Homo sapiens: one gene and its partner. The protein of the gene in region 2 interacts with the protein of the main gene of each other region in a biochemical or structural test. Each region holds a gene or a part of one and is shown on either strand. Other genes may lie near its edges.

Region 1 (8,246 bases), on a different chromosome or scaffold from region 2:
ATAATTACATAGTGCCCTATTTTCTCTTAGGCAGACACGACTGCTGCTAAAACCATTGAGACATTTAGACATGACACACACAAGAAAGATAGAGGAGCAAAAGTTTATATTTAATCAGTTTCTGCTCCAAATCAAAAATGTTCAGATCTTTAATAGTTAGACAGATAGGACTTCTAATTGTTGTATTAAAAACTTCTAAATGCACGAATCTTGTTTTATGCACCCTTAGGCTTGGAAGTTACTGCTGTCTCTTATATGTGGCCCTTTAGTGGACAAACCTCTTCAATTTTATCAAGTTGATTTTCTTCATCATCCACAATATCAACATTCCTCATCTCTTTCTGGATTAAGTTGTCTGATCATCCAGAGACAAACAGCAAACTGATTTTTAAACAAAACCAAAATTGCTATTTTGGCTAGGTTTTCCATATTTTTGTCCCCCCATCTCCCACATCTCATCCCCTTTAAACCAAATCTTTTAGTAGGTGCTATTTTCTGATTTGCATTTCTTCAAATAAATATGCAACTACAAAGTAGTTTTGATTAGTGCTTGGTCTTACGAAAGTATTTCAGGGGTTCAAGTTCGTAATCCCATTGGTATTTATCAGTGTTATTTCACAGAATTGAAAAGATTGTCACTAATTAATAATATAAATAAGATTGTACTGGCAGTTGCAAAGAATCTCAGCGAGAATTTTTTTAAAGAAAATATTTCCTTTACATTAATATATTATGTAAGAATTTTCACATGTTGATTTGCATAGAGTTGTGCCTGTGTTAGACATACACTACACTTTTTCCTCTACAGTAACACAGGAGAAAATATATCTCTGTAAATGACTCCTGACTGCGACAAGACCTGCCAATTTACCCTCGGATAAGTCTCTGAGAGCTTAATTGGAGTTATTACCTACTACTAAATCATCTTTAAGTCACTCTTCCTTAAGAGCACAAATATAGGCATTCTGGACTGCTCTGATCAAACCTTTAGGTTGTTATTCAAGCCAAAGTGGCCCCAGGTAACAGGGAGAGGAAAACATCTAACTGTCTACTAAATAAAAACTAACTTTGGTAGAGCATTTTCTAATTAATTGTTTTCAACCTTTTTAAAATTTAATCTTCCCAACACATCTGTGAGGCTGGGATCCTATACCATTCTCCTTTTTTCATAGATTAGGAACCTGGGGCTCAAAAAGGCTAAACGAATTGCCAGTCACCACAAACAGTAAGTACCAGTCAGAATTGGCATTTAGATATTATGACTCCATTTCCAGTGCCTTTTCTAGCACAACTTGCTGAAAAGAGGGAAGGTGGAGAACATTAAAATGCATCTGTTATACTCAAAGTTAAGAACACATTTCTTTTTAAACTGTCTTAGCCAGACTCAATGACATTTCTCAGAGGGGTTACTATCTGATTGCCTTACCTACCTTTCCTGAACAAGGGAATTTCCTGTTTCCCCCTATAGGGTATTTCACTATCAGAAGATTAATGAAAGTCTATATTTAAAATCTGAATCTAAATTTATAAATGTAGATTTCTAAATCTAAATTTATATTTAAAATACTACTCAGATGGCATGCCGTCTTAAAGCAGGTTCTCCCAGGACTTTATTTATTCTCATATTCTTATAAGGAAATATGAACCTCTGACTCTATCTCTCTGTTTCTTCTCTCAGTGGATTACATATCGGTTTAAACAATTCACTGCCTCACCCATATTGGATGAGTTTCTATAATGTTGGCAGGCCATGTGTTAGACCTGTGGAGGGGTTTATATGTCCCATGACTCCTTAACTTTAACTGTCTGGCTAACTGTGCACAGCTACGGCTTTCTATATTCCTGGATGAATGTCTGCCATTAGCTTGCAGCTGACCATGGTGTTGGCATCCGTGTATGGCCATGGATCGTTACACACGCTGGGACTGTGGTGTAGGGGTATGTAATTTCATTGCTTTTCCCACCTGATTTCTAACTACACCCAATTTATTTTATTATTTTCAATGTCTTTAATAAAAATTATTTTCTTCCCCAAAATGTTAAAAGGGAGAGGAAGAATGAGTGGACCAAAGGAGAATGGATTTTGTAAACATTAAAAGATGCCCCAAAGAAGAAGTGTTTGTGTGCTGAATTATTTTGAGTCTAGATTTCCTTAAATTTTGCCTTAAAAATTGACTTAAAATTTTTTTTAGCCCTGTTACAGTTTTTGGATGTAATTAACTACAGTGTTTTAAACATTTTACTTCTCACTATGTATTCTATACTACACATACCATAATAAACACTGGCCATGATCCCAACTTAGACTTGATTTAAAATAGAAGTACTTACGAATCCAAGCAGGAAAAAAAAGCATTCTAACACTCACAAGGCACATTCTTTTCTCACGCTTTCCTCAGCCTATTCCCCTGGGCAGTAAATTGTATAGTAAAATGACCAGTTTATTATTTGCTGTTTTCTTTCACTCTGCTGAGAAAAGCTACATTGCTGGCAAACTGACAGAAAATTTAAAAATGGAATCCAGTATTTTGTATGTCTGTTTAGGGAATGTGTGCAGCATAGACTATTCACGTGATCTATATTTCTCTTTTTTTGTCCTAACTGGTATCAACAGAAATGTAATGAATGAGCTTCTTAAAGTAGATGGGATAAGCAGAGATATCCTCAGAAAAGCAAGAGATGATTCTTGCTTTCCTTTTCCTAAAAATTCAAACAAACCATTAACTAACAACTAACTAAAAACGCTTTTATTTTTTAAGGGAAAAGCAGATTTTAAAAAAATTAAAATTCATTTTTTAATATGTGCTCAGCTAATACTTCACTTATTAAGATATTTAGAAAATGTTCACATTTTTTTCTTACAAAACGGATCTTAATGGAAGCCCCCTGTTTGCCTCACCCATGAATTTTCATTTTTTTTTTTTTACTCTTTTTGGCCTTGTCTTTTATAAATGTACTATTTTCACCCACAGCTTAAGAGAGCTTCTTTGATGTTCTTAGTACAACATAGTGTATGTAATGTCAGCTGTTTAAAGCTGGAGATCAGATTGTGCATAATAACATATGTAGTTTGGATTATATAAACACTACAGGAAGAAGGGGAGACAGGGCCTTTCTGTGTGCACATTTCAGATTGCTAGCTGTATGCCTGTTTAGAATGTTAAATACTCCTAACTAGGCAGTGATGAAGTTACTTCTTTAGTGACTGTGACTTCTGAAACTATAAAGACAAAACTTTTTCAACTAAAAATAATTTAAAGATGATGTCAGTAATGAACATATTTATGTGATTTTCTACTTGCTACTTAAGGAGCTTTGAGAGTAGAGGGAAAAAAATTGCACTGCCTTCAAAGCCCTATTTAACTAAGCAATTTCATCAAAAATTTGGAAATACAGCTGAGAAGAGCCAAAACCAGAAAAATGTGGTACAAATGATAAATTTCATCCATTATACCTTTCTCCCATTATAAAGAAGTCTGGAGCAGGAAATCTTACCAGTCTATTTTCTTAGGATTGTTTCTCTTATATTTTAATATTTCAGATTAGTTAGACTGCTTGGAGTTTTTGTCTTTTGTTTGCATCATTCTTTTATCATTAAGGTTGCTGTCTGGCTTTTTTGTCTGTTGAAAGATTTCGTTTCAAGATAAATTAAATAAAACATTACCATATTTTTCAGCAATGAAACATTTCAGATGGAGAAAGAAGTCAATAGTTTTCTGGTTTAAGTTTGTATTTTTATTTTCAATATTCTATCCTGCCTTGTTTCGGGAATACTTCAAGGCCGCTGATGTGTTTACTGCTCAAATATCAACACAGCAGTAATCAGGCCTTTGAAACTATGGGTGAAAAATCCAGTCCATTTCAGTCTTTTTAATTTATGAAAAGAGATTGTGTGGCATTTTGCTTCCTGTCCCTTTTCATAAGAACTTTAAATATGGACACCCCTCCTGCTGGTGTCTTTATATAGGGAAGCTCTGCGTGAGGTTGAAGTTTTTATGAGGAAACTTGTTTAAAACACAATCGTATTTTAAGGCGGGTTTGCCACAGCAAGGTTAGGGGTTACCAATAAATCGGTTTACAGCAACTTCTCTATTCTCTGCTCCAGACACACCAATGGGGTGACCCGTGCACAATTCCCGCTGGCCACACAAGGCAGCGGCAGTTCTAGTTGATCCTTCCTTCGTCAACTAGATCAACGAAGGCTGTCTTAGAGAGCTTCGGGTATTAAGTGAGCAGAGTCCCTTAGGCCAATTTGGCTGCCTGGGATTCCTGGGAGGATCTTGGAGAACCCAGGACACCCGAATCCCTAGTCCCTATCCTGGTTTTTGCTCTGCTGGAGAATAACAAAACATTTTGGGAACTCAGGAGTTTAATTTACTGCCACCAACCGACAAAATAATAGCATCTTTGTGTGTTCTCTCCCCTCCGTCCCTCCCACCTCCTTCCGACAGAAGCACGACGCTGGCCCTCTGTGAATGTAGCGCAGACAGCACGGGCCAGCCCGGAGCGGTCGCAGGAGGCTCCAGACCCGCGGCCCCAGGGACGCCCGGGAAATCACCGGCCCCAGAACGTCCCCCATTCCTTTTGGGAAATAAAAAGACGCAGCCGGTGAGATGCCTTCTTAGACCTTCCAGCTCATTTAGCTGATTCTGGCCCCAGAAAGTGTGTTTGTGTTTGTGTGTAGTTAAGTGAGGCAGAGAAAATCCAAGAAAGCCGCACAAGCCACCCCAAAGCGTCCACGGAAACTCCAGCTCGGTTAATTGCTCCCATATGTCCTCCTCGGCTGTGGTAAAAAAGCAGCGAGGAGGGAAGGCCGGGTCGCTTTATTGATTTTGAAGAGGCTGTAAAAAAGACTATGGCCCATCTCATTTTGGTCCCAGAGGGGCCTAGGCGCAGCCCCGGGGGACCCGGTGCCCAGAGGGATGGTAGGGTGCTTCAGGCCCGGACCTGGCGCCGAGAGGCGGGACAAGGGGACCTCGCGCCCAAGCCCCGCGGAAAGTTCGCGCTCCGCGCTCCAGCCGGTCCCTGGATCCGCCGCAGCCCGGGGCGGGGAGGGGCGCGGGAGGCGCGGCCGGGGCGGGCGCGCGAGAGGAAGGTGCCTTCGGGAACACGCGCAAGGGCGGGGATTCGCGCTGCCAATGAGGCCCCGGTGTGGGCCGAGCAAGGCGGGGGGACGGGCCGGAGCGGAGGCTTTGCTGTGGCAGCTGCTGGAGCGGCGGCCGCCTCGGGAGCCGGAGGAGAGGCAGCCGCGGAGCGCCGAGCTGGCCTCGCCCCGAGGCCCGGCCCTGGGTGTGGGGAACCGCGCTGAGGAGCTGGAAACTTTCCCGGCAGGTAACTCCCGCAGCCCGGACTCCGCCGCGGGCCTGCGAGCGCCCCGGGCATGGCCAGCTGCCAGTGTGCGGAGAGGTCGAGAGGGACCCGGGGTGGAGAGGGTGATGGGAGAAGGGAAAGGCGTGTGGGAAAGTTTCTGGAGCGCCCCCTCCTCCGCCGGGCACACCCGGGAGCTTTCCGGGAATAGGCACAGACATGTTGGGCGCCCCGGGCCTTGGTCTCTCGGCGGCTTTGGGGAGTCCGCACCTTCCTTGCGCGGTTCCCCCGCGCCGGACCGAGCCGGCCTCCCCTGGAACCGGTGTGGTGGGAACCGGGAACGCTTGGGGCACGCTCGAGTTCTGGGACCACCCCCGCCCGGCGCGCCCGCTCGCCCCCTTTCCCGCCTTCTCTGTAGCCCTCGGGCTTGGCAAGGGCCTGGGCTACGCCTGGTACCTGGCGCGGGGGAGGCGGGGGGAGGCGCGCCTGGCACCGCGGGGTCCTGGGCGCCCCCCGGAGTGTTGGGGTGCGCGGGTCGCGAAGTTGCCGAGAGAACTTAAGCCGGAGGCATGGTATTGCCCCAGTCTGGGCTGAAAGTCTATTGCTTTGCTTCCAAGAACACTGCGATTAGCATATCCACACTCCTTTATTGGGGGTGGGGGTGAGTTAGGATTAGACGTTGGGGGTTTTTCTTTAGGGGTGGGGCGCTGAGAAGAGCGGTAATTGTCAAGATTGTGAGCCCCCTTGTTCTTGGATGCAGAGTGGTCATTTTCGGGGGACGATATCAGGGCACTGGCTTCCTGGAGGACTTTGGGGTGCGGGCGCGCAGCGCTGTGGGTGTGCGGGGCTCCCGGCTTTGGCGCGGCGGCTTTCCGGAACGCCTGGCTGGGAAGGAAGCTCTAGGCATTGTGTGGTGTGTTTGCAGACAGAAAGGTCCCTGGACCGGTGTTCTCAAAACTTACTGGACTTATTGTGTAAAGCTCCGGGAGGAAATGTGGCGTTGGCCAGGTAGAAACGCGGCGCTGCGGCCAAGGGGCGGAGGACGCCAGGCTCGGCAACGGCCTTCTCCCAGCCCCCTCCTGCCAGCTCCAGATCCGCGTGCCTCCAGTGTTGGGACCGTTCTCAGTGGCGTTGTTCCCTGCTGGAGTTAACTTGGGAGGTGAGGAGGGAACTTTCATCTTGAACTTGACCCCAGAAGCAGCGTCGTCCGTACAGGTTACAAGGTAAATGGAAGCTGAGTCTTAACGTGGGTTGGACCGCAAACTCTGGCTGGCGCGGAAAGGAAGTTCCTGGTTCAGAATCTTTGAGGAAAGGGCTCAAGATTGCTGAGATCGCTCGCTCTGGAAATGCCAGACACACCAGACTGCAGAAGTTAATGCGTGTTTGGAGGGGTGGGGGTGGGAGAGGAAAGGAGAAACCTGGTTAGTTGGCACAGAGGGCTGGTATTTCTCTGTAGTGGAAATGAAGGGAGTCTGCGTCTCTGCTTTCACCAGATCCGCTACCCTCTTTTTTCCTTCCTTGGTCATCTTTATTCCTGCCAGGCTGGCACTCCTGAGGCAGGGGAGGGGAAGGAGAGGAAAGCAGTTGTGAAGCTTCCTGGGTCAGCCTGGAGGTATTTCAGATCTGCTACTAGGAAGATTCCAGGATTTTAACAGCTGCTTCTTGATTGCTGGGAATGAAGGAGTTTATGAGCGGCTGAGACTACTTCATTATAGAAGTAGTCTGAGTGTTTTACTCATCTAAGCTACTTAAAGACCTCACAAGGGACCTTCCCTAGAGTATGCCAGTTTCTGCAGTTTGTGTCAGCCAGAATGCTTGGTGAGTGTTAGTCAAAAAGCATCATAAATATATCCTGGTGGTTCTGAAATGAAAAGTATGTGGCAGTAAAGGAAGTATGGTATCTGATATCCTTCAGGACTTCCTCCTAGGGTTGTTCCTGTTACCTGCCAAGTGAACTTGGTTCAGGCTTCCGGACTGTTGTGATTTGACAATAAGAGATGGGAAATAGTGTCATCGATTTTAGTGGAAGCAGGAAAAGTCCACAAATAAATTTAAGGTGAGTTTTTATGACCCTGTCTTGCACATGTGGTGCCCCAAACTTAACTTTTTGGCACCAAGCCTTTTGGTTTGAAGTGTTGCTGGAACTTGGAAGCAATGGTTTTCCTGCTTTCTTGGTTTAACCACCAGAATGCCCAAATTATTATAATTTATATCCATCCTTGATCTAAGATATAACTGATTCATAGTCAGCCTTTTTCTGCTTCCCATAACAGCCTGTAGAAAAAAGAACATTTTGTCTCTTTAACCACACACGATTTATTTGGTGCCATAGTAGGTTTTGACACTGGGTGATTGAGGGCATAATTTTAGAGACAATGGAGTTGTCTGGATTAAATCGTCCATTTTTAGGCAACGTTCTCTTCTGAGTTGCTGATTAATTCTTTATTTCTCTGGGAACATTAAAACCAGCATCCCTGAGCCAGTGGAACTATAATCCATATTATAATGACTCCTGCCAGCATAGCTGGAGGTTAACTTTATGTCGTTGTTTCCATTAGACATTTCTAACCTAATTGTAAAGATTTTGTCTCAGTTGGGTTGAGAGTAGGGTTGAGAGTCTCATAGAAAAAGAAATGGCTTTATTTTTATCTTTATGATAAAATAAAGTTTGTGTTACAGGAATACATTTACAGAAGCAAAATAAAGAAGAGTGTTTATATATTTGTGGGGAGGATTTGTTTTAGTGTTTAAAATAGTTTGGTTTTCAACTGTCTCTTAAATGCATATTTCAGTGGTGGAAAAACCAGAACCTCTCCCTGCCCCCTTTCTCCCCACGTTATGAAAGTGTTCACTGTACAAAGAACTCTTAAGCCTTTCTGGGTCTTGGTTTTCTCATTTTTTTCATCCCTAAAATGGGATTACCTTGCATCCCTAAAGTT
Region 2 (7,876 bases):
TCCAGCCTGGGCAACAGAGCAAGACTCCGTCTCCAAATAAATAAATTAATTAATTAAAATAAAATAAAGTAAAATAATTTTGGCTAGGTGCAGTGACTCACGCCTGTAATCCCAGCACTTTGGGAGGCCAAGACAGGTGGATCACTTGAGGTCAGGAGTTCGAGACCAGCCTGGCCAATATGGTAAAACCCTGTCTCTACTAAAAATACAAAAATTAGCCAGGTATGGTGGCACATGTCTGTAATCCCAGCTACTCAGGAGTCTGAGGCAGGACAATCACTTGAACCCGGGAAGTGGAGGTTGCAGTGAGCTGAGATCACCCACTGCACTCCAGCCTGGGCAGCGGAGCAAGACTCTGTCTCAAAATAAATAAATAAATAAATATTTAAAAAAATTATCTGATCTCCCTTGTCTGATTGTAGGTCATAAGACCCCCATAAGAAGGGGTCCTGCCCATACCCTGGAGGAAGGAATGCTACAGAGAGAGGCCAAGAAAAATCTGAACAGATAGGCATTGCTGGGTTTCCCTACCCCATGCTTCAATTATGTCTACTCAATGAAGTCTCCATAAAAAGCCCAAGAAGATGGGGTAGGGAGAGCTTCTCAATATCTGAACACATGGAGGTTCCTGGAGGGTGGCATGCCCCTTCTCATACCTCACCCTGTGCATCTCTTCCTCTTGTATCCTCTGTAATATTCTTAATAATAAACTAGTAATAAACCTAAATAAGTGTTTTCTTGAGTTCCGTGAGCTGCTCTAGCAAGTTAACCAACCCAGAGGAGGGAGTTATGGGATTCCCAATTTATAGGTGGTTAGTCAGAAGCCGGGGTAAAACAATCTAGGACTTGTGATTGGCATCAGAAGTGAGGGCAGTCTTATGGGATCTGACACTATCCCCAGGTAAATAGTTTCAGAATCGAACTGTTAGATGCTCAGCTATTGCTTGATGCAGAACTGATGGGCCCACACATTTATTTGGTCACAGAAGTCCTCAGTGTTGACTGTAGTGGTGTGAGAGCAGAGGAAAAAGTTTGTGTTTTTTCTCTTACTCCTAATAGGATCTGGACTAGTAAGGGCAAATCTCTTCAGAACTCATTTTATAAGTTCTATCCATAAGTATTTCCATATTTATTAACTTTGTTATTATCTTTGTGAAAGTTGCAGATACCAGGTCAAAATCACTTTTTGTCAAACCCAAACAAACTAGAGAGCCTGAGGGAGAAAGCTCATGCTTGCAAGTCTGAGATAAAGATCGGTCTCAAGAAGGAACTAAAATAACCACCCAAGAAATTCTTTCTTTAGGAATGCAGTAATTCAGATAAGATAAGATAAGATAATCTTTTTTCCTTTTTTTTTTTTTTTTTTTTTTGAGACAGGGTTCTTGCTCTGTCACCCAGGCTGGAGTGTAGTGGTGCAAACACCACTCACCACAGCCTCCATCTCCTGGGCTCAAGCAATTCCCCTGCCTCAACCTCCCGACACACCTGACTATTTAAAAAGCTTTTTCTGTAAAGACAGCCATGTTGCTCAGGCTGGTCTCCAACTCTTGGCCTCAAGCGATCCTCCTGCCTAAGCCTCCTAAGTAGCTGAGATAACAGGCATGAGGCAGGTTGCCAGGCCTGATAAGATGCTCTCCATAACACCTGCCCAGTAATGGCATCTTCAACAATGGCCAACTCTGGCTTTCAGTCTGCAAAACCAATAAACTCTGTTTTCACGCAGCTTATCTGCACTTACTTTGCCAATAAAAGTTTCCTTTTACCCTCCCCTCTTCCATGCATATATGGCTTGCCAGGCCTGTGCACCTCGGGCTATAACGCTCATTTCTCATTCCCAAATAAATTCAACACATTTGGAGTGTTTTGTTGTTGTTGTTATTGTTAACATCTTAAAGGCCATTAGGGGCCCTAAAAACATCAAAGCTCACTTTAGCTAAAAGGCTCAATCTCACCTAACATTTTCTAATGCTGCAAACAGATTTAAGTTTTTAACCGCTGCCCCTGCCTCCACTCCTTTCAAATAGATGTGTGCAAATTAATTTGCAGCCAATAGGAATTTAGCCCAGAATGTGGTAGTATCATCCTCAGTGGAACCGACATTGTCCTTCTGGGTTTCCAAAGGCTTCTGCCTTCCTTTAAGAAACACTTGTCGCGCACCTACCAATAGCCAGACCCTAAATGCAGTCGAAAAATAAGGCCCTGAAAGGGGCACCCTCTAAATGGCAGAGGCAAGCCAGTAAACAACCAACTGGAATTCAAAGTGACAAGAGCCACTTGGAAATATGACAAAGTGCCAAGTGAAGGGGTGTTCACTTAATTCGGCCTGCGTGCGGGACGGCTGGGGCGCTTTGGAGAGTGGGAGTGATCTGAAAATGCTTTCCTGAGCTTGATTTAAAAGCAGGAGTCCAGGAATTTCCCCTAAGGCTGGAAGCACTTTCCGACAGAACCTCCCCATCTACGCAGCAAGGCTGGCAGAGCCCAGGGCCTGACCGCTGGCTTGGGAACCTCCGCTACGGGATGACCAGGCGCCGCGACGCGGCCGGGCCCAAGTCGCCCCCTCAGCCCGGCTCTGAGCACCCCCTCCTCTTTGTCCCCTCACCCCGTTCCCTCCTTCCACGGCCACCGATGGAGGGAAAGACTCCGCCCAGCTCTGGGAGCGAAACAGGGGCACCGATCTGGGCGCAAAATAGGATCCGTGCCACCCCCGAATACCAGTGGGCCGAGATTCGAGGCCCGAAAGGCCTGGGGAGGCGGGGCGGCGCCCCTCCCTGCCCGCGGCCTCGGCGAGCCCTGCGCGGCGGGGCGGGGACCACCGTGGGGTCACCCGGGCCCGACGCAGGAGGACGGCGCCCCCGCCCCGCCTCCCGGGTCAGCGCGGACGCACGCCGCGGGCGCCCCATCCTCGCCGCGGCCCCTCTGAGCGCCCGGCGGCGCCCTCCACCTCCGGCTCCCACCCACTCCAGGCGGGCGGGCGGGGAGAGCGCGGGGGCAGGGCAGGCAGGCCCGGGAAGCCCCGAGGGAGCTGCCCCCGGCCGGCCTCCAGGCGCGGGGACACCCAGGGGCGAGCGCGCACTGCACAGCCGGGACCTCACGCTTTACCTGGTGCGCTGGAGGAGCAGGTGGGAGCCCGGGTCGGGCGGGCTCGGTGTCGGCCCTGCCTCACCTGGGCGGAAGTGAGAGGCCCAGGGTGACCGCGCCTCACCTGGCAGGCCCTCCCCTCGCCCCGACTCTCCCCGCCCGGGGCGGGGCACCGGGGTGGCGCAGGGGGCGGGGGAGGGAGCCCGGGGCCGCGGGAGGCGGGCTCCAAGGAGGGAGGACGGTTGCCCTGGCTGTTTACGTGCAGGTGAATTCCTACCGGGCGCGGGATGGCCAAGGGCCTGGGAAAAGTGGGCTGTGGGGGCGGGGTGGCGGATCAGACCGCGCGTGGTGGGGACAGCCGCCACTGACGGGGAGGGAGATCCGGACAGACCGGTGTGGTTGGAGGCCTGCGTGTAGAGCGAGACCCAAGATCAAGGAAATTGAGGAGGATATCGATGAAAGCGTTGGGTCAATCCGCTTAACACTTTGTCTTTTTGCCCCTTTCCTTTCCTGTTCTCTCATCCCTCCTTTGTTTTCTCTATTCGCTGACGCAAAATAAAATATTCTAAAACGTGTAAATGTGGGAGTCATTATTTTCTTCTCATTTAGTGGAAGAAAGAAATCCAGCAGTATTTGCCTGCTGTATGCTAGGTGCTAGCTTATGCAATGTCTCATTTACTCTCTGAAGAAACTAATGAGGAAACCGTGCACCCTGTAGGTTGACTGGCCCAAAGTTTGGAACACAGGCAAGGCATTTTGACTCTAACTACAGTGATGATTTCACTATACGTTAATTTTCTTTTATTTGTGATGTCACACCTTCGAGAAAAATATGTCCCGATAGCCTTCTTCCACTCCCTTTAATAACTTTAGGCTTTTGATGATAGGGGTTTTACTTTGCCTGATACAGTCCACACATTAACGATAAAGAGAATCAATCTTCAGGTATCTTATTCATAGAGTACATACAGTAATTGTTAAACACTGTGATTGATTGTGGGAAGATGTGTAAAATGGTATCCCTGTCCCCAGGAAGATGAGGAATAGATACAAAACAACTACAACATAAAGACTTTCAGGCGGGGCGCGGTGGCTCACGCTTGTAATCCCAGTACTTTGGAAGGCCGAGGCGGGTGGATCACCCGAGGTCAGGAGTTCGAGACCAGCCTGACCAATATGATGAAACCCCGTCTCTACTACAAATACAAAAATTAGCCGGGTGTGGTGGATGCGTAGTCCCCTCTACGCAGGAGGCTGAGGCAGGAGAATCACTTGAACCCAGGAGGCAGAGGTTGCAGTGAGCCAAGATCCTGCCACTGCACTCCAGCCTGGGTGACAGAGAGAGACCCCGCCTCAAAAACAACAACAACAACAACAACAACAATTAGCCCGGAGTGGTGCCGTGAGCTTGTAGTCCCAGCTACTCTGTGGGGCTGAAGTCGGAGGATCACTTGAGCCCAGGGGTTCAAGACCAGCCTGGGCGACAGAGCAAGACTCCATCTCAAATAAATAAATAAATAAATAAAATTAAGATCATGCACTTGGTGCTTTGTAGTTTGCTTCCTTGTTTTAAAAGAAATGTAACACTTGTTAGTCATGGTAAGAAGACACACAATATCAGCATGGTTTCTGCTTTTTAGGAACTAACAAACTACTGAGGGAAATAACAGGCAAATTGCCAGATGGAAGCCAGACCTCAGAAAATGAAGAGATCTATTATGTTTTTTGAAAGCATGGGTTAGAACTTAAACAGGTCTTAACCAGAGTCTGAGATTAATTTAGGTAAAATGGAGAAGGAAAGGCTTTCCAAGTCGGGGGCAAAATAAAGTTGGAGATTGAGTGGGAAAAGGGAGAGGATTGAAAAACTACCTATCAGGTACTATACTTATTGCCTGGGTGATGAAATAATCTGTATATCAAACCCCATGGCCTACAATTTGTCTATGTAACAAACCTGGTTTTTTTGTTGTTGTTGTTGTTTTGAGACAGAGTCTCGCTCTGTTGCCCAGGCTGGAGTGCAGTGGCACAGTCAGCTCACTGCAACCTCTGCCTCCCTGTTCAAGCCATTCTCCTGCCTCAGCCTCCTGAGTAGCTGGGATTACAGGTGCCAGCCACCACACCCGGCTAATTTTTTGTATTTTTAGTAGACATGGGGTTTCACCACGTTGGCCAGGCTGGTCTCAAACTCCTGACCTCGTGATCCACCCGCCTCAGCCTCCAAAAGTGCTGGGATTACAGGCGTGAGCCACTGCACCTGGCCTACAAACCTGTGCATGTAGCTCTGAACCTATAATAAAAATTAAATAGGAAAAAAAAGAAAGGTGGAGACCAATTATCTCAAAGAATCACCTTGCAAACATTGGTCTCTTCTTTTTAAATTTATTTTTATTTATTTATTTTTTAAATTGAAATTGAATCTCACTATGTTACCTAGGCTGGCCTCAAACTCCTGGACTCAAGCAATCCTTCCACCTTAATATCCTTCTTGAAAAGCTGAGATTATAGGCACCACCACTACACCTGGCTATTGCACCTCTTCTTTATTTATTTATTGTAGAGAGATGGTCTCACTATGTTGCCCAAGCTACTCTCAAACTCCTGGCCTCAAGCCATCCTCCTGCCTCAGCCTCCCAAAGTGCTGGGATTACAGGCATGAGCCACCATGCCTGGCCTCCTCTTATTTTATTTTGTATTTATTTAATTAATTAATTTTTTTTGAGACAAGGTCTCACTCTGTCACCCAGGCTGGTGCACAGTGGTGCAATCATGGCAGCCTCAAATTCCTAGGCTCAAGCGATCCTCCCACTGCAGCCTCCCGAGTAGCTGGGACTATAGGCATGCACCATCATGACTGGCTTATTTATTTATTTAGACAGAGTCTCGCTGTTGTTGGCCCTACCCTGGAGTGCAACTGGAACCTCCGCCTCCCAGGTTCCAGCAATTCTCCTGCCTCAGCCTCCTGAGTAGCTGAGATTACAGGCGCCCGCCACCACACCTGGCTAATTTTTGTATTTTTAGTAGAAATGGGTTTCACCATGTTGGCCAGGCTAGTCTCAAACTCCTAACCTCAGGTGATCCACCCACCTCGGCCACCCAAAGTGCTGGGATAACAGGCATGAGCCACCACACCCAGCCTGCCTCTTCTTACTTTAATATTAAATGATGTTGTGAACATATTCCCCTATTTTCAAAAAGCTATGTAACTTTAAGTTGACCATGAAACCAAGTCCAAACTCCTTTTCTTGCTATTCAAGGCCCTTCAAACTCTCCCCTGCTTGCTGACTCTTTTCTTTTCTTTTTTTTTTTTTTTGAGACAAAGTCTCGCATTCCAGGCTGGAGTGCTATGGCGTGATCTCAGCTCACTGCAACCTCCACCTCCCGGGGTCAAGCGATTCTCCTGCCTCAGCCTCCTGAGTAGCTGGGATTACAGGCGCCTGCCACCACACCTGGCTAATTTTTGTATTTTTAGTAGAGACGGGGTTTCACCATGTTGGCCAGGCTGGTCTCAGACTCCTGACCTCAGGTAATCTGCCTGCCTTGGCCTCCCCAAAGTGCTGGGATTACAGGCGTGAGCCACTGTGCCCGGCCCCTTCTTGCTGACTCTTCAACCTAATCTCCACTTCACCTCTGGAGGATCTTACTCTGAGCAAATTTATCTATTCCATATCCATGGAACACCAATGGCTTTTCTGTTCGTTACCTACCCACTTTCCCCTGCCTGGAATGTTCTGTAAGCCCTACCCTCCTTCTAGGGCTAGACTCAAGTCTAACCCCTTCTGAAAAGCTGCCTCCCTGGCCACCCCAGGAAACATCATCTCTATCAGTTTTAACCTGATTTTCTCTACATTTCTGTGCTGTTAATTAATTTTACCTCACCAACCACCCTTCTTCCTTTGTGTTGTTAATTAACTAATTAATTTTTTCAGGCCAGGTGTAGTGACTCATGAATGTAATCCCAGCACTTTGGGAGGCCGAGGCGGGTATATCACCGGAGGTCAGGAGTTCAAGACCAGCCTGATCAACGTGGGGAAAACCCACTAAAAATACAATAATAACCCAGGCGTGGTGGCACACACCTGTAGTCCCAGCTACTCAGGAGGCTGAGGCAGGAGAATTGCTTGAACCCAAGAGGCGGAGGTTGCAGTGAGCCGAGATCATGCCACTGCACTCCTGCCTGGGCAACAGAGCAAGACTCCATCTCAAAAAAAAAAAAGAAAAATAAATAAATAATTGAGACAGGGTCCCACTCTGTTGTCCAGGCTGGAGAGCAGTGGTGAGATCATAACTCACTGCAGCCTTGAACTCCTGGGCCCAAGCCATTCCCCCATGTTAGCCTCCTGAGAAGCTGGGACTACAAACATGCACCACCATGCCCAGCTAATTTTTTAAATTTTTTATATTTAGAGACAAGGCCTCTCTATGTTGTCCAGACTGGTCTCAAACTCCTGGGCTCAAGGGCTCCCAAAGTGCTCCCAAAGTGCCTCGGCCTCCCAAAATGCTGCGATTACAGGCGTGAGCCACTATACTCGGTCTGTGTTAATTTAATGTAAACTTTTTTTTTGGCTCTCATTTGGAATTTAAAATTTTAAAAATTTATCCAATAAATTTTTAAACAAGGTTTAGCTGTACCTGAAAACGTTTATATCTGAGAATCCTCAAGAGTGTCTTTTTTTGGCCAGGCACGGTGGCTCATGCCTGTAATCCCAACACTTTAGGAGGCCAAGGCGGGCAGATCACGAGGTCAGGAGTTCGAGGCTAGCCTGACCAACATGGCTAAACTCTGTCTCTACGAAAAATA

What was found.
Region 1: the proteins of PATJ (region 2) and TANC1 interact in a test that uses a peptide from one of them, tested with the Homo sapiens proteins (2 studies listed by IntAct, with this or other methods).

What each region holds. Positions count from the first base shown.
Region 1 is NC_000002.12:158,963,452-158,971,697, forward strand, and holds the start of TANC1 (protein TANC1), read left to right. Parts: upstream 1-5,188; 5' UTR 5,189-5,331; intron 5,332-6,176; exon of another isoform or gene 6,177-6,530; intron 6,531-8,246. UniProt on the Homo sapiens protein: May be a scaffold component in the postsynaptic density.
Region 2 is NC_000001.11:61,737,779-61,745,654, reverse strand, and holds the start of PATJ (inaD-like protein), read right to left. Parts: upstream 3,176-7,876; 5' UTR 3,100-3,175; exon of another isoform or gene 2,871-3,099; intron 1-2,870.